Linked DNA regions of Homo sapiens. The protein of the gene in region 1 purifies or fractionates together with the protein of each later gene. This does not show direct contact. Each region holds a gene or a part of one and is shown on either strand. Other genes may lie near its edges. The genes, in order: CD48, TRMT44, CLSTN1, CTHRC1, PTPRK, GPR107 and PCDH1.

Region 1 (3,884 bases):
CCTTCATTTTGTCCTGTGATCAACCTAAATCAGCTCAGCTCATCTTGATTATATCTCCGAAATTAGGCTTCATTGGACTTAAGAAAAAAGAGAATGTATTAATATAAAGAATGGGGCAGGAGTTATCAGGAGAATTTTTCAACTTTCATAATGGGCAGGACAAAAAAACTTCCACTCATAGCTCCAGTCTAACCAGTGTATATGGAATAAGGACTCAGGCATTATACCTGGAGCCAGACAGACTTGGGTTCAAAACTGGTCAGTTGCTCACTAGCTGTGCAGCCTTGAAAAAAGATCTTCACATCTCTGTGCCCATATTAGGTAAGATTCTTTTGATAGCAAATAACAGAAACTAATTCAATGTACCTTTACCAAAAAAGGAGAATTTAGTTTAAGAAACTAGGGCTATTTAAAGCAATTCAAAGAGTTTAAAAGAGCTAGGAAGGGCTTAAGGGGAGAAGATTGAAAACCAGGTTCGGGCCAGAACCCCTAGCTTCAGGAATCTGTGGACTGTGCCTATGGATTTGGATTCCTGCCATTTTACACATGTTATCTCTCAAAACTTAGACTTTTGCTCCTCTGAGTTTCAATTCTCAGGGCAATTTAAAGAGAGAGAAACTGATAGTCCCAATTTAGTTCAGGTGTGTGTACCTGATCTAAACATTTTTGGTGAAAGGATCAGATTATAGGGCAGAAACATGGATATGGGGAGGGGCTCCAGGGGTTGGGGTATGCAATTCTTGTAGAAGAGCGGGGCTAAATAATCCAAGAGTGGTGTTCCCTTGAGAGCCTTGGGTTCTTCATCATATTATGAGAATAATTCTACTTACCTTTCAGGATGTTATTAGAGTCAAAGTAGATAAGGAAAGTGAAAACATTTTTTAAAATGTCAAAACATGCAAATGAAGAGTGTTGTATACATTCAAGTTCCACCAGCCAGACAGTCCCTGATCCAAGCAGTCAGATTCCCCTTCTAACTCTTCTTCCATGTCATATGGGCTGAAAATTCAGAAAGTCCTGGGAACAAAAAGATTCAAGGTCTCTTACAGTGGTGTTCTGGTTAACAAGCTCTACAAGATTTAAAAAAAAAAAAAAAAGCCCTAAAGCGTAGCATTTACCAACTTTGTAATTTCTGTGGTTTAAATACTGCTACCACAGTTGATTTCAATAAACTAATGGTTTCACAAAAAGCTTGCAAAATTTCTGAGTACTTAAAAATCCACAAACTGGCTTGGGCTTCAGCACATCCTGCCTGAGGGTAAGATTTCCAGGAAGTGATTAGCAGAAAAAATGGTCCTCTGGTCCAGCCCAAGCATTTCTGACAGCTCAAAGCGAGCATCTTGGAGCTGGACAACCCAAGCTGGCTCAATTAATTCCATCAGCAAAGTGCCCAGTGCTGTGCTGATCACCATGGGAAATGCAGAAGGAGTGTAAGATATGAGGCTAGAACACAGGAAATGGTGAAAACCAGGATAAAAATTGCTCAATTAAAACATATAGGGGAAGTCCAGGAAACTTTTATCACCTCTGTAGTCTGAGCAATCTTTTAGCGATCTGAGATCAGCTTCACAGAGGAGACAAAACTAGAGTTCTAGAGACCAGATTGGTAGAGCTTCTAGAGCCTCTCCACACATACAACCAAGAGGCAAGCTCTGATCTGGTCAATTCTCTGCCAATTTTTAATCTTATGGGATTTGAGTTGCATTGATTCTGCAGATGTTTCACCCTGACCAGAATGAAAAGATCTCAGAGGATTGCAGGTAAACCGGCCTTAGCCAAGGAAGGACCAGATGCTGGGACTATCTCTCATTCTCTCCGGCAGCAGTACAACAGTAATAATGGTAAAATGGCCTCTAGAATGTATGCAATACTTACACTCTTCAAAAAGCAATTATCCATGACAGGTGACGTTTTATCTTACTAACATTGCGCGATGAGGTAGAGTCAGTTTACAGATGACAGCAAGGGGGTTAACTACCTTGCCTAATGTCACTCCACTAGAGTCAAGTCCAGGACCCAGGCTGGTCTCACTCCAAAACTAGTGTTTTTGTGTCTACTTGCCTCCCTCCCTCCCTCCCTCCCTTCTTTTTCTTTTTCCTCTCTTCTCTTCCCTTCTCTCTCTCTTTCTTCCTTTCTTTCTTCTTTTTTTTTTTTTTTTGAAGGTCTTCTCCTTACCCAAGCTGGAGTGCAGTGGTATAATCATAGTTTATTGCACCCTGGAACTCCTGGGCTCCAGCAATCCTCCTACCTCAGCCTCCTGAGTAGCAGGGACTAAAAGTGCACACCACCACACCTGGCTACTTTTCTTTTCTTTTCTTTCTTTTTTTTTTTTAGAAACTGAGTCTCTCAATGTTGCCCAGGCTGGTCTCTTAACTCCTGGCTGCAAGCAATCCTCCTGCCTCAGCCTCCCAAATTGCTGAGATTACAGGTGTGAGCCGCTGCACCCGGCTGTGTTTTATCCTTTCTATCTCATAACTACTTCATTCATCCTTTCATGAGATACTTATAGAATACCTGCCATGTGGCAGGGATTGTGCTAGACATGGAGATACCAAAGTTAGCAGACCAATCTGTTTATCACAATTGATGCGGCTGGAAGTTACATGAAGTTCTTCTCTGTAGCTCTGCCAGAGTCTAGAAGGCTGGCACCTGCACTGGATGGTTGTGCAAAGGACTTTGCCACGCGCAGACAGGTACCTCTTACCTTAGGACTCTTGCTGAAGCTGAATCCGATAATTGGAAAGACAGACCAGCCAAGGTGCCCGCCATGAACCGTTGCTAGAGAAGGGTCCCTGAGCATCTCAGGCAGTTGATATACTAAGTCTGACCCCAGCAAGTCTCTGGGCTGTTCGTTCAGGCTCACACACGATCATAACCCCATTTTGTTCCCAGAGCATATGATGGACTGTGGCGCCCCCTCCAGGACGCAGCTTAGCTTCACTGCCTAGAAGCCGCTCTTGCAGTGAGTCTGTGAGGCCTCAGGAGGTCAAGGCTGCTCACTGGCTCCCTCTGTAGAACTTCTTCTTCATGACTCTGCCTCCTGGGGCATTCAGGCCCCTTCCCTGGATCCCTTTGTTCTTTGTTGGCTAAACCTTCACAGCATGAATGCCTCACTGTCTCATCTTATAACATCCTCCTCACTTTCAGACCCTGTACCCAAGCCTGTCATCAAAATTGAGAAGATAGAAGACATGGATGACAACTGTTATCTGAAACTGTCATGTGTGATACCTGGCGAGTCTGTAAACTACACCTGGTATGGGGACAAAAGGCCCTTCCCAAAGGAGCTCCAGAACAGTGTGCTTGAAACCACCCTTATGCCACATAATTACTCCAGGTGTTATACTTGCCAAGTCAGCAATTCTGTGAGCAGCAAGAATGGCACGGTCTGCCTCAGTCCACCCTGTACCCTGGGTAAGAAGGATCCCTGGGAGCTGAGGGGGGCACAGGGTAACTGGAGTTGTTTTGAACAAAGAAAGGCTGGGGGTCCTATTCAGCCTCCTTGCACAGTGTGGTGGTGAATCCCTAAGGTGTCTGGGAGAGCTGGGAGACGTGGGTTCTGCCACCAGCTCTACCACCACCTCCCAGCCAGCTTACCTCAACTTCGTGGGGGCTCAGTGTTCTCACCTGCAAAGGACGTTTGGGAGAGATCTCTGATACTCCTCTTCCCTCTCCCGCTCTAACAAAGCATAGTCCTAACATCTGAGGCCAGGGTCATCATAGAGTAGACTGAAACATCAGGGTGAGCAGGGAGAAGGAAGGGCAAGTGGGCGAGCAGCTGTCTAGAGGGGCTTCATTAGACAGCCGAAGTCAGCCAAGGAAAGAGGGACCGAGGTCATTAGACCGCCAAAGTCAGCCAGGGAAAGAGGGACTGAGGAGACGGG
Region 2 (3,884 bases), on another chromosome or scaffold:
CTGTTAGGTGGAAAGCAATTAAACACAAGAAGTTCTCGAAATGGGAGTTTGAAGACCTGGAATGGGGGAGGTAAGCTGTCCACCATCTTAGGGAGGGGCTAGCACGCTCCCAGGCTTGAGGGCAGGAATTCACGTCTTCAGAACCGACATGAAATGGTGTGGCCCTGTGACTACACACTTTGAAAAAGCCATTGATGGTGGGTGCATAGGCTCTCTTCAAGCAAATTCTTTAAAATTTTCCAAATAGCTCTTATAAACATAAAGGACTTTGTTATTTCCAGGGAGTGACAGAGTTTGGACCCTTAATTAACTTTTACCAAACATGCAGGTTTAGGGGCTAGAACTACTCATTTTCAATCTAGAAATTATCCAAAGAGAAAACAGGTTACTGAGTGCAAGCAAAATGCACTGTCCCCTTGAGTATGTGGTAAGATTTGGAGCTGTTGTGATTCGATAATTTAATTCTCTTTGAAATCCCCAAAACACAACAATCATCCATGGCAAAAGGAGAAAATTACATCGATTGTTCTCATGGGGTGAGTGGTGTGCTGAAATTATGTTCTCAGGTGAGTGGTGTGTTGAAATTAACGGCATTCAGAGAGCCAGCCAGGGCTGTAAGGACCTCGCCTCCTTCCGGGCAGGGATGCTGCTTGGCCGCCAGAGGGTGGTGTAGAGCTGCAGCCAACGCCTGGCTTCTCTTGCAGTTTTGGGAACTGGAGAAGAGCACGGAGCCCCATCCCCTCCCGGCCCCTCCGTCGGTGACTTCTGCCTGGCTGCGCATTTGAGGGAAACCCTTCTTCTCCAGGCTTTGCTTTCCTCACCTATGAATGTTGGGACAAAATCATACCCGTTTCCTTCTTCATCCTTTGTCCTCTTGTACCATGTGTACGTGGGATGGGACCGGGCCATGGAGCATAGACGGCCCCTCCAGAAATCATTCGAACCTGATGGTACCTGGTCAGCAGAGCCTCTAGCCATCTGGCGAGAGTGGCCCTGGCTCAGTGGCTGATGGGGCCGACTAGCTGCAAACCACCAGGCACCGTGGGGCCTCTGGGTTGGCCCTGCTGACTAAAGGCACCCTGCTGTGGTGGGGCTGGAGCACAGAGGAAGAAGGCTGAGGCTGGCAGAGCATGGAGCCCACCACAGGCAACTGGGACCCAGAGCCCCAGGGACATCAGTGTGGTCTGAAAGTTCCCACGTGCAGTAAACAGTGACAGTTCTTGAGTGCAGTTTGACCTTTAAATTCCCAGGAGATGACGGGCACACAGATGTCAGCTGTGCCTGGGATGGACGGCTTTCGGTGGGTGAGGAGGAAGGAGGAACAGACCTGGAGATGGAGAGCGGGGATGGGTGAGCGGTGGGCTCAGTCCTGCCTGCGCCTTGGAACTTGGGAATCAGGGCACCTAACAGGCTCTGGACCCCCGTCCCCTCCAGATGGGTGTCCGTGGGTCTGGGGCTTGTTAGGGACTCTCCACGTGGCCTTGGCCTCTCAGCCCACTGCCTCCCTCCCGCCCACAGGCGGCCTTCAGGGCCTTTGGTCGCCCCCACCCAGCCTGTCCTCAGGCAGGCACCTCTGCGTTTCTGTGCCTGTGGGCCATGTGTGGCTCTGTCTCCAGGACCTCACCCATCCTAGCTCGGCGTCTGTCCCTGTGGGACACTGCTGAGAAATAGGGTAGGAAAGGGCCCTGCCCTCAAGAGGCTCCAAGTCCTGCCTGGCTAGGAGTCAAGACCGCACACGTCAAAGGATGAGAAACCAAGAGGCCGGATATGCCAGGCCAGGAGGCACCCATGGCTGAGTGTGAGATTCCCTGTTATGGAGTCCATGCTGGGCCAGAGCCGGGGCAACAGGGAAGGCTGACTGGGACAATATGTGATCTTTTTTAAAACACTCCCGCTCCTCTCAGAATGGATTTGAGACAGCCGAGAGGTGGACTCAGAAGGTTGGCCAGGCTGGGTGGGCAGGATTCTCGCAGCAGCTGCGACAGCGGCTGCCAGCACCAGGCTCCTGGGTCAGGAGTGTGGTGTCCTGATCCGTAGGGGTCTGACAGGCTCAGCTGCATACAGACAGGCGCCGTCTCCTCCGCTCTCCTGCAGCTTGGGAGGGTGTGGATAAGATGTGAGGTGCAGCACCTGGCAGATAGGAAGTTCCTGGCAAATACATGCAGGAAAACCAGCTTTCATTCATATCCAATTTGATGTTTTGGTAATAAATGACTTTAATGTCACCAGGTTTTCTGATTAGAGCATTTTGAAATACCTGCAGGCTCTCAAAGCAGAAATTCGAATGGGAAAGAGACCATCACTGTGGTGTCTGTGCTGTTCCTTTTTTTAGTGCCTAGCATGGCCTTGCTGGCCACCCTAGAGCCGGTAGCGCCAGGCTGGCTGCCCCATGGTTGGAGCAGCCACTGGGAAGGCTCAGGCCCCAGGCTTGCCAGCTTGGCCTTCCTTCTTTAGTCTGAGAAACCCTGGCTCCAAACAGCCACCCCCCTTCATGGGTCACCAGTGAGAAGAGCTTGAGGTGACCACCCAGAGCAGGCAGCATCACCTGACGCCTGGCCCTGTGCGGGCATGGGGCATGTGTGGGGCTGCGTCTTGTCAGGCTGTGCCACCTTAGCTGGGTGGGGACGCCACGGCCCTCACGGTTTGGTGCGGTGTGGTGTGGGTTAGGTGAGATGGAATCGTCCTTCGTGCTGGAGTGCATAACGCGTGTGAGTGTATGGAACTGAAATGGACTGTTTCTGCCTGTGTGACAGGTTCGTAATATTTTGCTGTTGTTTTGGGGAAAAAAAAAACCCGTTTTTCCACAGAGAGCCTATCTCTGGCAGAAGTAGCCAACGAGCTGGACACGGAGACCCTGCGGAGGCTGAAGCGGGAGTGTGGGGGCCTGCAGACGCTGCTCCGGAACAGCCACCAGGTGTTCCAAGGTACGGAGTCCGCCTCTCCCCCGCCGTTCTTTCCTTCTTTTTCCCCCTTTTTTCAGTTAAATAATGTTTTATTTTAGAGTGGTTTAGACTCACTGAAGAATCTGACAGAAGCAGCAAGTTCCGCGGTGCCCCACCCAGCTCTGACGTGGGTGGCATTTGACCTCAGGGTGGGACGTGGGTCACCCCGTTCCCTCCTTGCTCCTCTGGACCTCGTCCCATGCGATGTCCCCAGGCTGGTCTCTCTCCCCCTATGCTGTGCTTGCTGACGCCTCAGCTCCACTTGCTCCACGCAGGACAGAGCAAGTCGGGTAGCCGCTGGCCGGTCCCCTGTTGGCTGGGGGTCATTGTTTGGCGTCATCTTTAGCTGCTGCAAACTGAAAGCATCCTGAGCCACAGAGCCAGGGTGGGGAGTGGGAAGAGTGAGCCCTGCCCCACAGGCGGAGGCCTGGACTCCTGTGGCCCTCGCCCCACGGGCCTGGGCAGGCGGAGGTCCTGGTACCCAGTTCCCCTGCTCCCCAACGCCCTGTGACTCCAGGACTGCCAGGGTATGGGGAGGCAGGAGGGCCCTCCACCCGCTTGTCCATTCACTCAGCCCGCAAAGCAAGGCAGACACATCCCTGGCCTTCTGGAGCCGGTGGTGCAGTGAGGGAGGGGGGAGATGTAGCAGGTGCTCACCCAGGTGCCAGTGGTGTACACACTTCCATCATCTGCAGCTTCCAGGTGTGCACAGAGGGGGCAGGAACAGGGCAGGGAGCCATGGTTTACCAGCGCCAGCGGCTGGGGAGTTTGCCATAACTTGCTTTGTGGCGCTTTTTTTTTTTTTTTCCTCTTTCTGTAAGTATTTTAAAGCAAATTCTAGCTAGCATGCTATTTCACCCCTAAGTACTTCCACGTGCATCTTTAAGAATAGTAGGTGTCTTCTTGTGTCACCACCATGCCCTAAGCACACATTTCTGTGAG
Region 3 (3,884 bases), about 150 Mb from region 1:
CACTGCCCAGGGAGCTGCTGTCGGAGGAGGAGTGTGGAAAAGGGGCCAGGGACCCCGCACCCCACACCAAATTAGGAACAGGTAGAATCCCAAAGGCAAGGCCCGGCCACTTGTAGCTACCCTGATCCAGTCTCTTGAGCAGCACAGCTAGAGGCCTGTGGCCCCCGACTCCCAGCCATACTCAGACCTGAGCAGGGGCTGGGGCGGGGCTGGGCGGGGTGGGCCTCTCCCTCTGGGGTCTGGGGAGGGAGGACCCGGCGGGAAGAGCCCGTGCTCAGAGCTCCGAACTTCACTTTACATTCCAGTCCCGGGTTACACTAGCACAAAGGACACAAGGAATCCGATTTATTTACAAAATATTAAAAAGTCAGTTAATCATCTACACAGTACCCCCCATCCTGCCATTATTTATACATGCACTAGTTTGGAAAAAATAAAAACTTTTTTTAAAAAAAGAAAAAAATGATTACCGGGTGGGAGTGAGCATGTTTTACCCTTTGTCAACGAGCCCAGCTGGCATGGCTTTTCTGGAGTGCGAGGGGCCAGTGTCCTCTCCCCGGGGGGAGACTCCAGACACAAACGCGGGGCCTGAGGCGCTGGGAGGCCCCTGTGCGAGCCGGATGGCGGCCAGAGAGGACGTGTCAGCTCCTCGTGGGACTGAAGAGCGCGACCAGGCAGAGGGTGGGCGGGGAGCCTAGGGTCCTACACACCAAGCACAGCGACGATCGTGGCGGGGAGGGGTCTGCACACCTACTGGCCGAAATGACTTTGTACATCGTGGACCCTTGGGACTGGGAGAACGGATGGCAGCAGAGTCTTCGAAAGCAGAAACCGAGGTGGCCGGGGGCACGGGTCAGTAGCTGAGGGTGGAGTCATCCCACTCCAGCTGCTGCTGCCGGGTTGCGTTCTGGGGGTCGCCCTGCTCCCCCTCCTCCTCCTCGCTGCTCTCCGACTCGGCGCTGGTGATGTCATCCTCTTCTTCGCCGTCCTCGCTTTCCTCTTCCTCTTCCTCTTCCTCCTCCTCCTCACTGCTGTGCTGGTCCTCATAGGTCTGGCAAGGAGAAGTGACGGCCACATGAGTCCGGCCCTGCCCACAGCCCCGTCACCTGGCATTCTCCTCTCGACAGCCACAGAGGAAGGAGAACTTGCCCCAGCGTCTCCCTCCCCAGCGACAGAGCAGCCAGGACGGCACCGGAAGTTATATTAGAAGTGAAGGGAAAACAAAGCTCCAGTCAGCACCCACGGAGTCACCCACATACAAAGCAGCTTGGGACAGCACCTCAGCTGCCCCACCAGAGAACTCTCTCAGGATTACCATGACCCAAGAGCGCCAAGCCCTGGCATGGCTCTTCTCTACACTTAAGGCAGAACGGCCTTGAATAAGGTCTCTCTCAGCCTCGGTTTACCCACGAAGACACCTAAGCCCCAGGCTTGCTGAGCAGATGACGCGATGGAAAGCATGTGAACCTGAAGGAGCCGCGCCGTACCGGCTTCTCGGAGGCCCTGGCCTGTGCTGCCTCTCAGTCCTGGAGGTCGCCCGCCCACTCCTACCTCCATGGGGTTGACGGTGATGGTCAGGGCAGAGTCGTCCCAGTCCATCTCGTTCTCCTTCCCGGTGTCCTGATCCCGCATGGTCCGCCGATGTGCGGCCCGGATCCGAAATACCCCCAGGATAATCATGAACACCAGGAAGCTGACGCACACCACGATCACAACTGTCGCAGTGCTGGGGACGACTGTGGGAGAATGAGGGGGCGGGATGCGAGGTCACTCGGCCCAGAAGGCCACTGTGCCCTTGACCTCCTCGGCTGTGCCTGGTCAAAACGGGCTGGACAGCACGCTTCAGCTGAACCCACAGGCCAGGAGGAAATACCAGGAAAAGCTCGCCATGGGCCTCCAACCTGGCTCGGCCACGTCCTGCTCCATGGCTGCGGGTGACATCATCTGCCCTCTTCGAGGGCTTTAGTTTCCTTGTGTGTGATGGGGAATAATTGGGACAGGGAAAGACCGGCGGTCATGCTGAGCAGGAGGCTGTGCCCACGGTGGGGTGGGGGCAGGGCGGACGGCATGGAGCATCTCCGCTTGGTCTCCCTCCCCATGTCCTACCTGCGAACGGGTGGGGGTTGGCCAGGTTGTGGCCTGACAGGTCAACAAAGGAGCGGTGTTCCGGGTGCACGAACTGTGGCTGGGCAGCCATGTGGTTGGCGTGTTCCATGGGGTTGGCCGTGTGGATTACATTCACCTATAGCAGAGAAAGAGAGGATCGCTGGAGACAGGCATCCTGAGCCTGTCCAAGAGGTGACAGTGGAGTCCCGCAGCTGGCATGACCAGTGCCACTCAGAGTGGCTCCTGGACCGCAGCTGGGGGCAAACGGAGCTACGGGAAAAGGACAGAAAAAAAAATCAAGAGTAAGCACTTAAAAAACAAAAACAAAGAAAAAGAAACAAAAACCAAACAAAAAAGAGTAATAAGCACTTAGAAACTGCTATAACAATCTAATATTCTCACACATTCCAGAAATGTATCACTTTTCTACTTATTAGTATTTGTTGAGACTGGGTCTTGCTGTGTTGCCCGGGCTGGAGCGCAGTAGCTATTCACAAGCATGATCACGGCTCACTGCAGCCTGGAACTTCCCTGCTCAAGTAATCCTCCCACCTCAGCCTCTCAAGTAGCTGGGACTACAGGCAAGCACCACGCACCTGGCTGCAATCCATTTTTATTGCATTTTATAAAAGATTATGCCCAAAACAAGAGCAGAAAAAGAAGCCGATGGTCCTTCCCCATGGGTCGTTTGGGAAGCACTGGCGTAGACCTTTTTCCTCAAATCACAGCCGTGTGAAAGACAGCACCAATCACTGCCATGGATTTCCTTTCATATCTCTTACCCTTTGACTCAAACAAAACAGGCACCGAATTTAGCATTCTGCTCTTGAGTTCATGGTGATATTCCATTGCTAAGAGTAACTTTGGGTCAATTTTCTCCAGGCCACAGAGAGCCTGAGCGATGAAGCAGCTGCTGGATAGGTCTGTAGACGACCTCAGAGCAGGAGGAGCTACCCTCTAGCCTGTGTGGCCTGTGAGTCACCAGCGCCAGCCTCAGCAGCACTGGTCCTGCCCGTGCGGGTCCCTGCGTGAGCCCCTCTCAACCTGGGCCGAGGACTCGACTTCATTCACAGGAGGGCCAGTGACCTGGCACAGATGCAGAGAACTTTTGGTTCCCTGGATGCTGCTCTTTCTAAAACAGTGTCTTTGGCTGGGCACAGTGGCTCACGCCTGTAATCCTAGCACTTTTGGAGGCCAAGGCAAGTGGATTGCTTGAACCTGGGGGGACAAGACCAGCCTGGGCAACATAGTGAGACCTCGTCTCTAAAAATAAATAAATAAATAAAACCACATCCTCCTGTTTCTCTCATGGGAAATCTCAAGAAGCCCCAGAGGCATTAACTGCCACTTGCTCTTTGTCACCTCCCTGCAAAGTTCCTTAGGCTCCAACTCAGGCTGAGGCAGCCAGGGAAAGGGGAGCACCCCCCACCCCAGCTCACCCCAAACACAACTTGTCACTCCAACAAGCCCAGGTGTAACCTGCAGCAGGCCCCAGGCTGGAAAGGCGACCCCCTAGAATGAGCCTGTATAGCTGCCATCATGAATGCTCTGAGGTTGGCGTTTGTGAATATTAGGGCTGCAAATCAGCGCCCTCACTCACTGCTGCTATTGGCCCTGCTCAGTGGGAGCCTTGTACTCACCTCCACCTTAAATTCGTTGCTGATGTAGCGGCCATTCAGCTCTGAGCAGATGAGCTTAAACTTCCGGTCAAGCAAGGACCTGGCATGCCAGTTCCGATAGCGCAGCAGGTGCAAAACCTCCTCGTAGCTGGCCATGGT
Region 4 (4,382 bases), on another chromosome or scaffold:
CAGGACCAGTGCAAGGCAGCAACTCTGGGTAAGTGTGTCCACTGCCCTGGGTGGACCTTTCAGGATTTAGACCTGGGGAAGAGAGCATTAGCAAACCCACCAGCCTAGCACACATAAGCCATACATGCCAATGCTGTATGATCAGTGGTAAAGGTGATATCCTGTGCCCCACCTGTCTAATTCCTGTGTCTACACCTGAATTGGTTCAGCTAGGAACAAAGGTGCCGTTTATTAGACACTCCAAAACCCAATGCAATCCATTTAAATGTTTACTCTAACATTTCCTCTATTTGTGTAAGTTGCCTAGTATTATTCTGTATAACTATATTTCCCAATGAAAACAAAAAACAAAGTTTCTTAGATATTAAAGTAACTTCAAAGCTTATCTTTTGACTACAGTATCTGGGATTGGATGATAAAATCCAATAGTTGTCTGGGAAGAATCCTATATAATTAGACTGATGCTTGCTAATCAATTTGTGTCTCCATCGCCAGTTTGAGTTTTGGTTTGATAAATGACTTTTTAAGTCTTTGACATCGCCATTTTCCTGACTGTAAGAAGAAAAAGACACTACTACTTATTTACTGTCAGAGAAATAGTTAAAAAAAAGAAAAGAAAAAGCATTTAACAATTACAAAAGTATTCAAAGACACAAAAAGTAAAGCATTTTAAAAGTGCAAAATATTTCAAAATAGTTTGGTGTGTTTTAGACTTTATTTTTATTTTAGTAATTTAATTCACTCTCACAAGCAGATATATACAATGTTTAGACATACATTTCAAATGGGAATAAGACTGCTTCTGATATTCTTTGATTTTTTTCACTATTATTCCCCTCAGGGCAAGATGCTACACAGACTAAATTTTACTTCATTATATATCAGTGGATCTCAACTGGGGACAATTTTGTCCTCCAGGGGACACTTGGCTATGTCTAGAGACATTTTTGGTTGTCACAACTTGGGAGAGGGGATTGCTACTGGCATCTAGTATGTACAAACGATGCTGCTAAACACGCGACAACGGACAGGACAAGTCCCCACAAGAATTATCTGGCCCAACATGTCCATTGTGCCATATTGGGAATTTTTATTCACCTTTTCATCTAAAAGATACATTTCAAAGACTATATAACTTTACTTGACTCGATTCCGCAGGTGTTACATCAGTCTTCTACTTTAAAATGCTAACCCAACATATGCTTAGTACTCTCAATAAATGTCTGTGGAATGAAAAAAAAAAGATGTGAAGGGAAGCGCACTTTTATACGCCCCTGTTTCTTTCACTGGCCACCAGGGGGCAGAGCTTTGTGGAAGCTTGAAAGGAACGCTTTGAAAGATCCTATACAAAGAAGTTGCTTTATAGAATCTGTTGAAACCTTAATGACTGTGGACTTCTTCTGTCAGCAAAACCAAATCCAACCTACAGGATGCACCTGAGCCTGACTGCAAAATCTTTTCCAAGTCTGGCTAGAGTTGTGGGAAACCACAGGTACTGTAAATCCTTGAAGGGGGGAAAATAGCAAGCTTCACAGGAAAAATGGGTATTTTGTGTATCATAACTACAGACTCATAAAATGCAAACTACACATGAACCATACTCATTTGGCACAGTTTTAATAATTTGGACACTTAAAATAGAACTGTTGCCTGAACACATAGTCCCCTTTTGTGGATCAAAATTACACAGCCTACCACCAAAAAGTGCTGTGTGAAATGGCGGGAATTTTTTTCCCAGCACTTTTGAATCCAATACAGAACTAGCTGCCAGGGAACTTGGTATATTAGCTCAGTTTAAAATGGCAGCTTAACAAATTCAAAACTTTCTTTTTAATTAAAAAAAAATGCCCCAACTTATGTCTTGCAATGCCTGTAAATCATGTTTGTCTGCAAGTGAGACTGAAGTTTATAATATGCCAAGGACTACGGTAGCTCTGAAAGGCTCCCTCATACCACAGGCCAGAGAACCTCTCCGCCCTCCACTGGGTTTGTTGATTTTTAGAGGGAAGGATTTTAAGCAAACATACCTTCCCACAGATGAGCCCCTGGAAAGCACTCGGGCCGTTCATTTCCAGTTTCCTGGAAACTGTTTTCTCCCGTAGCTTGACTGTGATGCTCCTACCTGGCGGCCACATATGAAGACCCAGGGTGTGTGTAATGACAGACTGCCCATTTGGTTTAAACAGAAGCAAAACAGGTCCTTAGAGGGTTAGCGCCGGGCCCCTTCATTTCCCTTTCCGGCCTTAAACCTTCTGAACCATTCCTAGCCCCAGCTGTGGTTGTCCAACAAAGTAAATTGCAGCCCATACTCCCTAGGAAGATGACCCAACGTGACTCATAGTCTTCAAGTTACAAAGAGTTGGACGGATGCTTTGTGGGGGTTGTTATTCTCTCTCGCAGGCAGACGTGGCCACCAGCCCCAACAAAGGACACGTTGCACCGCCCTGGCCCAGGCCCAGGTCCATGTGATCAGCGAGGCCAGGGTTTTTCCCAGGTCCACTTCGGACGTACCCAAGCTCCTCATCCTACTCTCACTGCCGCCCTATCCCTCCCACCCTTCCCAAGGGGTCCCCCTGGGGCCAGAAATTATTGGGGGACTCCCTGTACTTCGGGGAGACCCACCGGGCCCATATCGCATGTCCGCTCCACGATGGCCTCCCATTTTGGTCTCCCCTCTGAGTTCCAAGACTCACTGCACGCATAACCAGGTCCTTCTTCACCTGTAAATAAAAAGCATGACACCCCGGCGCAGCAAGACACACGACACACAGCTGTACAGACAGACACCCCCAACAGCCAGACTGACGCCCTGCCCGTGGGGCGCGCGGCCAGGTCCCCTCCACCAGCGCGGCGGTCCCGGCTCGGCTCCCTCGGACTCACCAGGTCCACCACCTCCCTCTGCCGGAGCTGCGCCTTTTGCTTCCCCTTGGGGATCTCAGAGGCGCTCGACGGCGCGGGCAGCTGCAGCAGCAGGAGCAGCAGGAGGCCGCGGAGCCGCTGCGGGGAGGCGGCGGGGCCCTGGGGTCGCATGGCTCCCGGCTGCCGGGCAGCGCGGAGCTGGAGGCGGAGGAGACCGAGGAGAGGAACGTGGTCAGCGTCTGGCTCCGCCGCGCTCCGAGGCCGCCGCAGGCTGCATCAATGCGCCTTTCACCCGCGCGCCTCTCTCCCTCCCTTAATTCCTCCCGCCCCCGCGACACCCGGAGCTTCCATCCCGTAATAGGCCCCGAGCCCCCACCCCGAGCCCGGCGTGGGGGCGGACCGAGAGCCGGGCCCGCCCCCTCCTACTGCAGTCGCTCGGCCTGTCAGGACCCCCGCGGGGCTGCGCAGACCCTCGTGGAGAGCCCGCCTGCAGGGTCTGGGCGGGGTGGCCCGTGGTCAGGAGCCGCAGGTCGGGGATTCCCGCAGGTAACACAGCGCCGCCTAAATGAACATTTTAGAGACACGTGGCTTAACCTGGGTACACGAGCCACCTTCAAGGGTCGTCAATCTATGGCATGGGTCGGCGAGTCTTATTTGTTTTTTGTTTGTTTGTTTGTTTTTGAGACAGAGTCTCGCTCTGTCGCCCAGGCTGGAGTGCAGTGGCGCCATCTAGGCTCACTGCAAGCTCCGCCTCCCGGGTTCACGCCATTCTCCTGCCTCAGCCTCCAGAGCAGCTGGGACTGCAGGCACCCGCCACCACGCCCGGCTAATTTTTTTTTTTTTTTTTTTTTTTTTTTTTTTGAGACGGAGTCTCGCTCTGTCGCCCAGGCTGGAGTGCAGTGGCGCGATCTCGGCTCACTGCAAGCTCCGCTTCCCGGGTTCACGCCATTCTCCTGCCTCAGCCTCCCGAGTAGCTGGGACTACAGGCGCCCGCCATCACGCCCGGCTAATTTTTTGTATTTTTAGTAGAGACGGGGTTTCACCGTGTTAGCCAGGATGGTCTCGATCTCCTGACCTCGTGATCCACCCGCCTCGGCCTCCCAAAGTGCTGGGATTACAGGCGTGAGCCACCGCGCCCGGCCCCGGCTAATTTTTTATATTTTTAGTAGAGACGGGGTTTCACCGTGTTAGCCAGGATAGTCTAGATCTCCTGACCTTGTGATCCGCCCGCCTCGGCCTCCCAAAGTGCTGGGATTACAGGCGTGAGCCACCGCGCCCTGCCTTATTTGTTTTTTGGAGGTGACATTTTTGGAGGCTGGAAGGTGGGGGTGGGGCGGAGGCAGGAAGAAACCATAGGTATCATCAGGTTTTCCAAGAGTCCCATGACCCAAATGATATATAAACGCTGTTTTCATAAGTGCTAACACTTACTAAGCTCTGGCACATTGCAAAACCTTGCACGCGTACTCTGTCCTCTCAGCAATCCTGGCGGGTTGGGAGGGGTAGATGCCTCCTGGGCTACT
Region 5 (3,884 bases), on another chromosome or scaffold:
AGGCAGGAGAATGGCGTGAACCTGGCAGGCGGAGCTTGCAGTGAGCCGAGATTGCACCACTGCACTCCAGCATGGGCAACAGAGCGAGACTCCGTCTCAGAAAAAAAAAAGAAATAATAACAAGTCAAAATGAGTGGTGATTTGTGTGTATTTAGTGTGTATTTATAGCCTTTTTTTCATGCAGTCATACAGATTTTGACCTGGGTCACTCACAATGTGATGAGATCAAGCACATTAATTATAACTGAGTCTGGGTTCAGTGGCAGCTCACACCTATAATCCTAGCACTTTGGGATGCCAAGGCAGGCAGATCTTGAGGTCAGCAGTTCAAGACCAGCCTGGCCAACATGGCAAAACCTCATCTCTACAAAAAATATAAAAAATAGCCGGGTGTGGTGGTGCATGCCTGTAGTCCCAGCTACTCAGGAGGTTGAGATGGGAGGATTGCTTGACCCTGGAAGTTTGCTTAACCCTGGAAGGCTGTGGTGAGCCAAGATATTGCCACTGCACTCCAACCTGGGCAACAGAGTAAGACCCTGTCTCAAAAATAATAATAGTAATAATAATAATAAATGAAGTTTGTAGTACATGTTATTTCAAAATAGCCCTAAATGTTTTCACTGCCCTTAAAACACCCCTGAAGGTGGGTGAAAATAAAATCAAGGGCAGAGACCAAATTCTTTGATTGTTGATCCAGTGCTCTTTCCAACATGCCATAGCTTATCTTCAAATATGGCAAGCCCAGATGTTACTACAAATGATACCGTTTCCCAGTGTGATGAAGGGTCATTATCATAATGGACTGCCCGATTGCATTTTCTTTGGTTAAGGCAATGCATTTTGCAGGTAGCAGTGTTGTTTAGCGTACCTTTTCCTTTTAAGAAGAGGAGCCCTGAACAATGTGTGTCTTGTTTCTTTGTCACTTCTCAGGCTTCATTAGCTTTAACTACAAGGTCTATCAGCCTGTCATAGTAGCAAATGCCATTGCCTCGCACAAATCCTTCACTTTCTACTTGGCCTTCTAAATTCCTGATGGATCTGTGTTATACTGTTAAATGGGTCACACTGTCTTTTAACCTGGGTTCTCTTTTCTTTTTAGACTCTGAATTCAGTCACCCCTCGACTACAAGCTGAAGACTGCAGTATAGCGTGCCTGCCAAGGAACCATGACAAGAACCGTTTCATGGACATGCTGCCACCTGACAGATGTCTGCCTTTTTTAATTACAATTGATGGGGAGAGCAGTAACTACATCAATGCTGCTCTTATGGACGTAAGAGACTGCCCTCTTTGTTAGTGTAGAGTGTTGTGGAAAGCTACATAATGCAACTGAACACTGGCTAGTTTTCTTTTCGAGGAAATTAAAATAACCTAAAAAGGAAAAGTGGAAACTTTTATTGAAACACATTTTTTTGGAAAATGATTTTAGGTTTTCCCTATAGAGATTCTTAAGAACTGTCATTTTTATAGCTTTATTGTAGATTTGGAGCTTGATTGTCAATTATTATATTCATGTAGTAAATATTGCAAGTTATAAATTTCATCTTAATTATTTTCAGAAAAGAAAATCATGCCTTATCTATTTTGAATATAATTAGAAATGAATTTTTTAAATCACAGAATGCCAAATCCTACAAAAATCATGTTAATTTGGGAAATTTTTATTTCTGACATTTAATGTTTCAATAATTTACAATTAATTTGTTGGCCATTAATCAATAAGGACTATTATAAGTAACTAGAGAGGGGATGGATGGTATTATGTTAACACATCCATCATAATGAAAGAACAATCTTGCCCCATTCTAAAATCTTAAATTGCAGGGTGTTATATAGCCCATAGACAGAACAATATGGAAAGAAAGTTTTCTGTTTTAGTTTTTGGTTTTTTTTTTTTTAGACAGAGTCTCACTCTGTCGCCCAGGCTGGAGTGCAGTGGCATGATCTCAGCTCACTGCAACCTCCGCCTCCCAGGTTCAAGCAATTCTCCTGCCTCAGACTCTTGAGTAACTTGGAATACAGGAGCGTGCTCTACCACACCCCGCTTATTTTGTTTGTTTGTTGTTGTTTTTGTTTTTGAGACAGAGTTTCGCTCTTGTTGCCCAGGCTGGAGTGCAATGGCACAATCTCGGCTCACTGCAACCTCTGCTTCCCAGGTTCAAGCGATTCTCCTGCCTTTGCCTCCCAAGTAGCTGGGACTACAGGCATGCACCACCATGCACGGCTAATTTTTTGTATTTAGTAGAGATGGGGTTTCACCATGTTGGTCAGATTGGTATTGAACTCCTGACCTCAGGTGATCCACCTGCCTCGGCCCCCCAAAGTACTGGGATTACAGGCGTAAGCCACCGTGCCGGGCCTTTTTTGTATTTTTAGTAGAGATGAGATTTCACCACATTGGCCAGGCTGGTCTCAAACTCCTGACCTCATGATCCGCCCACCTTGGCCTCCCAAGGAAAGAAAGTTTTAAATTATGACTTTGGCCACTTTACTTTGATTATGTTGGAAAGAAGCAAGAAAGCTATCATGGTTTATAATCTTTTTAAACAGTTTACTGCCTTCATTTCTAGCTTTTGCCCTTTCTCCTATGAAACCATATCAAGGAGAAATTAGAAGCCACGGTTCATTTCTTTCTGACTATAACAGGCTTTCTAAGTTATTGTTCCTGTTAAGCCCACATTCTGTTTCTACGAGTAGTCTTCACCAGTTACTTTACTCTTTTTGGTGCTGCAAAGCGGAATAGTCTAAAGGCAGGCTCTCGTCCTTGCTGTGGTCACTCTTGCCTGTGAAAAGCTCTCATCCTTGCTGTGATCGGAGTCTTGCCTGGCCATTAATCACATCCACTGAAATCACATTAAATCCTAATTATACCTTTTCTTTTTATATTAGGTGTCTGGAAAGGCAAATATACTAAATAGAGAGATGGCATACAATACTTTTTCATTTCTGCATCTAAATATGGAATAAAAAAAGGATGTGTGAACAAGAAAAGGAGAAAATAATAATATTTAGAAAAGCATTGATGCCTTTGAATTTTTTGCCATTGGCATCTTTGTCAAATTTTTCTCAATGTCCAGATTGTCTCCTTTTCTTTTCTTTTTTCTTTTTCTTTTTGAGACAAGCTCTCACTCTGTAGCACAGGCTGGAGTGTCGTGCATGATCACAGATGACTGCAGCCTCAATCTCCTGGGCTCAAGTGGTCCTCCCACCTCAGCCTACCAAGTAGCTAGAACTAAGGTGTATGCCATCATGCCCAGCTAATTTTTTTTTTATTATTTTTTGTAAAGATGGGGTCTTGCTTTCTTGTCCAAGCTTGTCTTTTTTTCTGTATGAAAGTTGAAGCTTGTAATCCACCTGCTCTTACTGTCTGCTTAATCCCCTGTGATTCAAAAAAAAGACATTTCATAGTTAAAGCTGTTCTGGGGATTTAGTAGTGCAAATGAACCGTTGGAGAAGTAAAGCTGGTTTGATTTACAAGAACAGGGTTTATTGTTCACTTCTTTCTCCCTACCCTTTATCCCCATCATTAGTACCCTTTTGCCAGGTCTATGAGGGATTAGGAGCTAGGGCCAAGAATTCTGTAATTTCAAAGCCTTACATATGTTCCTGCATTTAGAGGGAAAAAGAATAGGAAGTCTTCAGTCTTCTCCTCTCTTATCAGCTCCTCCTCATGCATATCCCCTCCCCTGTGGCTCAAAAAATGAGTAGATAGCCGTCAGTCTGCTTTGACTTACCTTTGCATGGAGCAGACATTTGATTGGAAGAAGAGCTTCCTTTCTTCTAACTTTTCTCATTGTATTAGTTCATTCTCACACTGCTAATAAAAACATACCTGAGACTGGGTAATTTATAAAGGAAAGAGTTTTAATTGACTCACAGTTCCA
Region 6 (3,884 bases), on another chromosome or scaffold:
ATTCCAGCCTGGGTGACAGAGCGAGACTCCTTCTCAAAAAAAAAAAAAAAAAAAAAAAAAAAGAAAGTTCACAAATTTGTGTTGGGCCGCATTCAAAGCCATCCTGGGCCGCATGCATCCTGGACAAGCTTGTTCTGAGTTCTTGCCCAAGGAAATGGAAATCATTTGAAGAGAGCCTGTCAGAGCAGCAACTTTAGATTGTCTGTTTTGCTTGAGACTGAGTGAAATAGGGTACTTGATCAGATTAGAGACCCATAATGGCAAGGATAACATGAAGAGGTCACTGAGTACCAGGAGTATGCGTTGATCTCTTAAAACCTGGCTGCGCCTGGTAGCTCACACCTGTAATCTCAGCACTTAGGGAAGCTCGTTTGAGGTCAAGAGTTGGAGGCTGCGGTGAGCTATGATGGCGACACTACACTCTAGCCTGGGCGACAGAGCAAGACCCCATCTCAACAACAGCAACAAAAATTAGCCAGATGTGGTGGTGCATACCTATAGTCCCAGCTACCAGGGAGGCTGAGGTGGCAGGATCCCTTGAGCCTAGGAGTCAGAAGCTGTAGTGAGCTATAATGGCTCCAGCCTGGGGGACAGAGTGAGACCCTATTTCTTAAAAAAAAAAAAAAAAAAGACAAAGCAAAACAACCTTTTTATTGTGGAGAATTTCCAATATACTAAAGCAGATAGAATAGCATAATGAACTCCCATGTGCCTGTCACCCTCAATAACCATCAACACATGGCTGATTCTGCCTCATCCCACATACATCAATTTCTGGTTCTTATTTTTTATTATTTTTAAAATTAGAAATGAGTCCTCTTATATTTTTATTGTCTTACTCCATGCTACATTTTCCACCATTCTTCTGGCTTTCCCAGTCTTCTCACAGTCCATCTCTTTTGACTTTTCCCTATATTCCTTGCCTTTTTATTTATTTATTATTATTATTTTTTTTTTTTGAGACAGAGTTTTGCTCTGGCACCCAGGCTGGAAAGCAATGGCGCGATCTCAGCTTACAGCAACCTCCGCCTCCCGGTTCAAGCGATCTCCTGCCTCAACCTCCCAAGTAGCTGGGATTATAGGCATGCGCCACCACGCCTGGCTAATTTTTGTATTTTTAGTAGAGATGGGGTTTTGCCATATTGATCAGGCTAGTCTTGAACTCCTAACCTCAGGTGATCCACCTGCCTCGGCCTCCCAAAGTGCTGGGATTACAGGCGTGAGCCACCGCTCCTGGCTATTTATTATTTTTGTTTATTTTTTTAAAGACCTGTCAGCAGGAAATACTCCTTGCCTTTTAAGAACAACTTTATTGAGGTATAATTTACATACCATAAGATCACCCATTTTAACTGTATAATGCAATGATTGTTAGTAAGTTTACCGAGTTGTACAGCTATGACCACAATCTAGCCACAGAACGTTTCTGTCACCCCATAAGATCCCTTGTGTTGGTTTAGAATCAATTCCCATTCCCACCACTAGTCCCAGGCAGCCACTAATCTACTTTCTGTCTCTATAAACCTACCCTTTCTGGATGTTTAATGTAAGTGGAATCACAGGATGAGTAGGCTTTTTTTCTTTTTTTTTTTTTAGACGGAGTCTCGGACTGTTGCCTAGGCTGGAGCGCAATGGCGTTATCTCGGCTCACTGCAACCTCTACCTCCCAGGTTCAGGCGATTCTCCTGCCTCAGCCTCCCGAGTAGCTGAGATTACAGGCACCTGCCACCACGCTCAGCTAATTTTTGTATTTTTAGTAGAGACAGGGTTTTGCCATGGCGGCAAGGCTTGTCTCGAACTCCTGGCCTCAAGCAGTCCGCCCGCCTCGGCCTCCCAAAGTTCTGGGATCACAGGTGTGAGCCACTGCGCCCGGCCGATAGGTAGGCTTTTGTGCCCATCTTTCTTTCTTTCTTTTTTGAGCTTCGTTCATTTTGTGCCATGTGTCAGTAATTCATTCCTTTTTACTGTTGAATGGTCTTCCAGCGTGTGGATATATCTTCTTTTGCTTAGCAGTTCACCAGTCGATGGATGTTTGGGTTGTTTCCACTGTTTGGCCATTATGAATGATGGTGCCATAAACGTTCACATTGCAAGGCTTTGTGGGGCCATATGTTTTCATTTCTCTTGGATGATATCCAGGAGTGGAGTAGAATTGCTGGGTCATATGATAGATTTATGTTTAACTTTTTAAGAAACTGCCAAACTATTTTCCAAAGTGGCTCTACCATTTTACATCCCACTAGCAATTTATGAGAGTTCTCTTTCTTCACAATGTTATCAGCATTTGTCATTGTCTTCCTATATTATTTTAAAGCATATTGGCTGGGTGTGGTAGCTCATGCCTGTAATGGCCTTTGGGAGGCCAAGGCAGGTGGATCACCTGAGGTCAGGAGTTCGAGACCAGCCTAGCCAACATGGTAAAACCCTGTCTCTACTAAAAATACAAAAATTAGCCGAGTGCGGTGGCGGGCGCCTGCAATCCAAGCTACTGGGGAGGCTGAGGCAGGAGAATCACTGTAACGCAGGAGGTGGAGGTTGCTATGAGCTGAGATTGTGCCACTGCACTCAAGCCTGTGCGATAGAGTGAGACTCCCATCTCAAAAAAAAATAAATAAATAAAGCAAATCAAAGGCATTGCATCATTTCATTCTTAAATATTTTGATATTACCTGTAAAAAATAAGAGCTCTTTTAAGAACATGGCTACAATGCTATTATAACAAAAAAATCCTTAGTATCATATGTCAGATCAGATTCAAATTTTCATTGGTCATAAATGGATTGAAAAAGTTTTGAAAAATCAGGATCTAAGTCACATCCTCATACTGTGATCAGTTAATACGTCTTTTTTTTTTTTTTTTTTTTTTTGAGATGGAGTTTGTTCTTGTTGCCCAAGCTGGAATGCCATGGTATAATCTCGGCTCACTGCAACCTCTGCCTCCCGGGTTCAAGTGATTCTCCTGCCTCGACCTCCTGAGTAGTTGGGATTACAGGCACCTGCCACCACACCTGGCCAATTTTTTGTATTTTTAGTAGAGACGGAGTTTCACCATATTGGTCAGTCTGGTCTCGAACTCCTGACCTCAGGTGATTTACCCGCCTTGGCCTCCCAAAGTGATAGGATTACAGGCATGAGCCACCAGGCCCAGCGTGATCAGTAAATAAGTTTTATTTCGGGGGGAGGTTGGGGGGCGCACGGAGTCTCATCCTGTCCCCCAGGCTGGAGTGCAGTGGCGCGATCTCGGCTCATTGCAACCTCCGCCTCCCAGGTTCAAGCAATTCTCCTGCCTCAGCCTCCTGAGTAGCTGGGATTACAGGCACCCACCACTACGCCCAGCTAATTTTTGTATTTTTATTAGAGATGGGGTTTTGCCCTGTTGACCGGGCTGGTCTCAAACTCCTGACCTCAGATGTTCTGCCCACTTTGGCCTCCCGAAGTGCTGGGATTACAGGTGTGAGGCACCGCGCCCAGCCTATCCATTTCTTATTAATGGAATAAAAATGATAATCCGAGTTTTTTTTTTTTTTTTTTTTTTTTGAGATAAGGTCTCATTGTGTTGCCCTGGCTGGAGTACAGTGGCTATTCACCAGTGCAAACATAGTGCACGATAGCCTCCAACTCCTGGGCTCAAGCCATCTTCCCGTTTCAGCCTCCAAAGTAGCTAAGACTACAGATGCTTGCCACTGTGCTCGGCTAATCTGAGTTTTACATCAAAAATTGTCTAAATATGATTTTTATATTGTGTTAAAAACACAATATTTTGATGACTGATCATTCTGGCTTTCAAGTAGATGCTGCAAATGAGCAAGTGGACAGGAAGTGCTTTGCTAAAGCCTCAGAAATTTGGGCATTTCTTGGGTTTGATACTTCTATGATAATTATCC
Region 7 (3,884 bases), on another chromosome or scaffold:
TCACGGGAAACTGTTCATATGCTATTTCACTGTCACCTAAGTAGCCTGATAGAGGAAAGTAATATCACCTGCTGGGGTGGGGTGGGAAAGACTCCCCTGGCTGAGTTTGGGGAGAAGGGGTCTCACTACAGTATTCTGGCAGTTTTTCCCCTAAGTGAAGGGAACTCTCACCTGGTTGGGTGGGCTCCCATTTCTAGTGGTGGGTCACCCTGACAGTTATACGGAGGGGGCCTCTCACCTGGATGACCGAGTGGCCTATGGGGCTATTCTCAGATAGTTCGGCCTCATAGGAGGGCCGCTCAAACTTGGGGGCGTTGTCATTGGTGTCAAGCACGGTGACACGCAGCAGGGCACTGCTGGCGCGTGGGGGGCTGCCGCCATCCTGCACCTTGATGGTGAGGTCATAGGAGTCCCAGCGCTCACGGTCCAGGTTGCCCATCACAATGAGCTGTGGTTGCTTCTCCTCCTGGTCCTCTGCCACCTGCAGCCCAAATAGCTCCTGGGCCTCAGGCCCAGCCTGCAGCTCATAGGATGCCACACCGTTGGGACCAGCATCACGGTCTGAAGCCAGCGGGATGGGGAAGAGTGAGCCGATGTTGGTGTTCTCAGGGATGGCCAGAGTGATGACTGGTGAGGCGAAGTTGGGTGTGTTGTCATTGATGTCTTGTACTTCTATCTGGCCCTCTAGCAGCCGGGGGCTGCCATTCTGCACGAGGTCTGTGATAGATACCTCAAACTCCAGGATGCAGGGATCACCAGGGAGCTGGTTCTGGCATTCACGGAGCCCCTCACGGTCGATGGAGGTCTCGGTGGTGAAAATGTCACCTGTCTTGCCATCCACGCGAAGGTACGGGGCACCCACCTCTAGCTTGTACAGGTGCCCCACATCTGGAAAACCATAGTCGGCTGCGAGGCTCCCAATGAGGGTGTTGGGTGGCTGTTCCTCCGGCACCTTGTACACTACCCGAGTGGCGTGGCCTGGGGATGGAGCCAGCAGGAGCAGCAGTGCTAGCAGCATGGAGGGCAGCAGTAGCCGTTGCCCCCCAGGGCCTGGGCTGTGCCTCAGGTGCTCCATCCTGGGAGGCCCCAGAATCAGGAGGGCTGCAAGGGGAAGAGGCAAAACAGAGGCCATGAGCTGGGAAGAAAAGCCTGGCCCTGAGCTGCCCAGAGCTGGCCCCATACTCACCCTCTCCCACTGACACACGATTCTCCACAAGAGCAGTCAGTCCCAGCACAGAACCCCGATTCCAGAAACTCAGATCCCTGAATCTCATCCACAGCTGGGTGTAGCAGCAGTGTCTGCCCCAGCTGGAGGAGCCAGTAAGAGGCCTGGCATGCCTAGAGCAGCTCCCGCCCATGGAACACCCTCACCCACCTGACGCTCCCTGGGCCCAAGCCCGGCTGCCCGCCCTCTTTCCTTCTTTTCCTCCTTGCTCTCTGCTCTGTGCTTCACCCAACACCTCCTTCTCACGAGCATCCTGCCTTAGTCACCGATGGTAATTACCTTGATACTGAGATAGGGAGAGAGAGCCAGTGGAAGGGTGAGACCTCGAGCATCCCCAACTGGAGCACCCCTCCCCACATGCATGGTAGGAAAGAGACACAAGTACGTCCTTACACACCCCAGACCCTGGGACCTTGACTTGTCACACTGGGCTCCATTAAGGTTGGCTGGAGGGAGAGGGGATGATGTCTCATTTCTCTTTGTTCTGAGATGCCAAGTCAGTGCATATGCATGAGGTATGACATCTCAAATCCTCTTTTTCTGACAATCACCCACGGTGCCCAGTATTCTCCACCCCCATAAAAGGCCAGCTTGAATTGGGCAAGGCTTGTGAAAATGGTTAGGGTTGAGGAGTAGGTGTTAGCCTTCCCGACTTTCCCCCAACACATATGCCCCAGAACGTGCACACAGGCCACAGAGCGTGCACACATGCCCCAGAGCATGCACACATGCCCCAGAGCATGCACACAGGAACATGCACAGTTGCTAGGGCTCCTCTCCTCTCCCTCCTGCTGCCATGGGCAGGTGCGTACAAGGGAACACAGGTCAAGATTGGGGTCAGAACTGTGGTCAGGGCTGACTAGCCCTGGAATTGGCATTGGGAGCTGCCCTGGCCTGTCCTTAGCAACAGGGAGCCCAGCAGGTCTAACTGGGACAGAGCTGCCGATGATAATGACACCAGCAGCCTTTCCCTGGCCACTCCCCCACCCCACACCCTCTGGTCTCTGGATGAACATCTGGCTCTTATTTGACATCCATCTCCGTATATCCAGCCCCTACTTCACACTTGCCTCTCCCAACCTCTGCCCTAGTCAACCACAAGCTGTACCCCATCACAACAATAACCCCCTTCTTCTGCCCATCTCCCCTGGCTTTGAGGTCGTGCATTTGCAGATCCCAGCTAGACCCAGCTACTGTCTCTGTCTTGAATGCCCCCTCCTCTCCAACAAAATCATGGCCAGTCCCTCCTTTATTCAAATCCAAAATCTTTGGATCAGCAGTTTCTTTGGAGGCTTCTGGTTCAGTCTCCTTTCCCCACTTCCTCACTTTTACCTGGAATACCTTCCCCACACCTGGAACACCCACCCCACATCAATCCCACTGAGGGCAGGCTCTGGCCCTCCAGGAAACCTTCACAGTCCTCTCCTGCCCACGGTGACCTCTCCTTCCTCCAACTCACAGCCACTTATTGTCTGCTCCAATCCCAAGGCAATGAATCATGGGGCTGACTGGGACACCGCCCGCCTGTGTTGTTCAGCTTCAGTATTGTGCACCTATTCCTGAGTTCTCTGCCTTTCCAGGCAAACACAAAGCACTACGAAGGAAGGGACAGTACTCTGTACACTCACTCATCCCCTGCCCCCTAACAATGCACCTTTGCACATCTGGGTACACTGTAGGGACTCAGTCATGCATTCAACAAATGTTTATTGGGCATTTACAATATGCCAGGCTCTGTCCTGGGCACTGGGATGCAGAAGTAAACAAGACTGGTCCAATCTGCCATGACAGTGCTTCTAACTCAATGACTATTTGTCCATTTTGTTTGGTTGCTTCTGTATACCATTTGGCGAATGTAAGGCAGCAGGGTGGAGAAGAGCGAGGGTTGTGGCATTAGACAGTCTGAGGCAAACCCAGCTGCTCACTTCCTGGCTGCATGACCTGAAGCAAAGATTTAGTGCCTCAGTTTCCTTACCTGTAAAATGGGGATAATACTACCTATTTCCTAGGGTGTTTGAGATACTGTGGGCTAAATGTGGGTACTCAACAAAGGACTCCTTCAAAGCATTTAGCACAATTGTAGTTGTGTACCTGTTTGGAAAATGTGTTAATTGTCTGTCTTTGCTCCAAGATGGTGAGCAGAAAGCAGGAGAGTTTCTACTTTGTTTGCTCCTACCTCCTCAGGGCTTAGCCCTGGACCTGGCACACAGTGGGCACTTGGCAGCTCTTGAATGACTGTTGTTATTTTGCTCTCTAGGCTTAGCCTTTCCTGGTACTTGCTGTGTGACCACTGCTCTTTTACTTGCTCACTTACCCGATTCCCCTACACCACTAAGAACTTCCTGGGGTAAAATGTAAGTCTTCTCTGTTTAGGGCACATAGTAGACTCTCAGCAAATGTTCACTGAATGCACAGAGTCTTTAGATAAATCAAACACATCCCCTCCTCTGTATGGCCTTCCCCAAGCACAGGCCCCTCCCTAAAGTGTGTGCGGCGTTATCAGATTGGTGTGAATGTTAATCTCTTTAAAGGAAGCAGGAATTTATCTGTACTCCATTTGGATCCACCCCCCACCCCCCCCCTCCACCTGCATGGACCTGGCACAAGGCTCATCTGACTACTTCAACCCCAACCCAAACACATCGTCAAAGGACCATCA

What was found.
Region 2: the proteins of CD48 (region 1) and TRMT44 purify together in Homo sapiens (affinity purification with mass spectrometry; one large-scale study listed by BioGRID and IntAct). This does not show direct contact.
Region 3: the proteins of CD48 (region 1) and CLSTN1 purify together in Homo sapiens (affinity purification with mass spectrometry; one large-scale study listed by BioGRID and IntAct). This does not show direct contact.
Region 4: the proteins of CD48 (region 1) and CTHRC1 purify together in Homo sapiens (affinity purification with mass spectrometry; one large-scale study listed by BioGRID and IntAct). This does not show direct contact.
Region 5: the proteins of CD48 (region 1) and PTPRK purify together in Homo sapiens (affinity purification with mass spectrometry; one large-scale study listed by BioGRID and IntAct). This does not show direct contact.
Region 6: the proteins of CD48 (region 1) and GPR107 purify together in Homo sapiens (affinity purification with mass spectrometry; one large-scale study listed by BioGRID and IntAct). This does not show direct contact.
Region 7: the proteins of CD48 (region 1) and PCDH1 purify together in Homo sapiens (affinity purification with mass spectrometry; one large-scale study listed by BioGRID and IntAct). This does not show direct contact.

What each region holds. Positions count from the first base shown.
Region 1 is NC_000001.11:160,680,732-160,684,615, reverse strand, and holds part of CD48 (CD48 antigen isoform 1 precursor), read left to right. Parts: exon of another isoform or gene 1-1,410; intron 1,411-3,147; coding exon 3,148-3,414; coding exon of another isoform or gene 3,415-3,521; exon of another isoform or gene 3,522-3,884. UniProt on the Homo sapiens protein: Glycosylphosphatidylinositol (GPI)-anchored cell surface glycoprotein that interacts via its N-terminal immunoglobulin domain with cell surface receptors including CD244/2B4 or CD2 to regulate immune cell function and activation.
Region 2 is NC_000004.12:8,468,277-8,472,160, forward strand, and holds part of TRMT44 (probable tRNA (uracil-O(2)-)-methyltransferase), read left to right. Parts: coding exon 1-70; intron 71-704; coding exon of another isoform or gene 705-1,009; exon of another isoform or gene 1,010-2,225; intron 2,226-2,807; coding exon 2,808-2,924; intron 2,925-3,884. UniProt on the Homo sapiens protein: Probable adenosyl-L-methionine (AdoMet)-dependent tRNA (uracil-O(2)-)-methyltransferase.
Region 3 is NC_000001.11:9,729,655-9,733,538, forward strand, and holds part of CLSTN1 (calsyntenin-1 isoform 1 precursor), read right to left. Parts: coding exon 3,747-3,884; intron 2,243-3,746; coding exon 2,107-2,242; intron 1,737-2,106; coding exon 1,552-1,736; intron 1,052-1,551; coding exon 854-1,051; 3' UTR 1-853. UniProt on the Homo sapiens protein: Postsynaptic adhesion molecule that binds to presynaptic neurexins to mediate both excitatory and inhibitory synapse formation.
Region 4 is NC_000008.11:103,370,305-103,374,686, reverse strand, and holds the start of CTHRC1 (collagen triple helix repeat-containing protein 1 isoform 1 precursor), read right to left. Parts: upstream 3,150-4,382; 5' UTR 3,031-3,149; coding exon 2,881-3,030; intron 2,181-2,880; exon of another isoform or gene 2,136-2,180; coding exon of another isoform or gene 2,028-2,135; intron 1-2,027. UniProt on the Homo sapiens protein: May act as a negative regulator of collagen matrix deposition.
Region 5 is NC_000006.12:127,978,505-127,982,388, reverse strand, and holds part of PTPRK (receptor-type tyrosine-protein phosphatase kappa isoform b precursor), read left to right. Parts: intron 1-1,099; coding exon 1,100-1,273; intron 1,274-3,884. UniProt on the Homo sapiens protein: Regulation of processes involving cell contact and adhesion such as growth control, tumor invasion, and metastasis. Negative regulator of EGFR signaling pathway. Forms complexes with beta-catenin and gamma-catenin/plakoglobin.
Region 6 is NC_000009.12:130,056,890-130,060,773, forward strand, and holds part of GPR107 (protein GPR107 isoform 3 precursor), read left to right. Parts: intron 1-3,884. UniProt on the Homo sapiens protein: Has been proposed to act as a receptor for neuronostatin, a peptide derived from the somatostatin/SST precursor.
Region 7 is NC_000005.10:141,868,331-141,872,214, forward strand, and holds part of PCDH1 (protocadherin-1 isoform 2 precursor), read right to left. Parts: intron 1,298-3,884; exon of another isoform or gene 1,275-1,297; coding exon of another isoform or gene 1,187-1,274; intron 1,102-1,186; coding exon 239-1,101; intron 149-238; exon of another isoform or gene 1-148. UniProt on the Homo sapiens protein: May be involved in cell-cell interaction processes and in cell adhesion.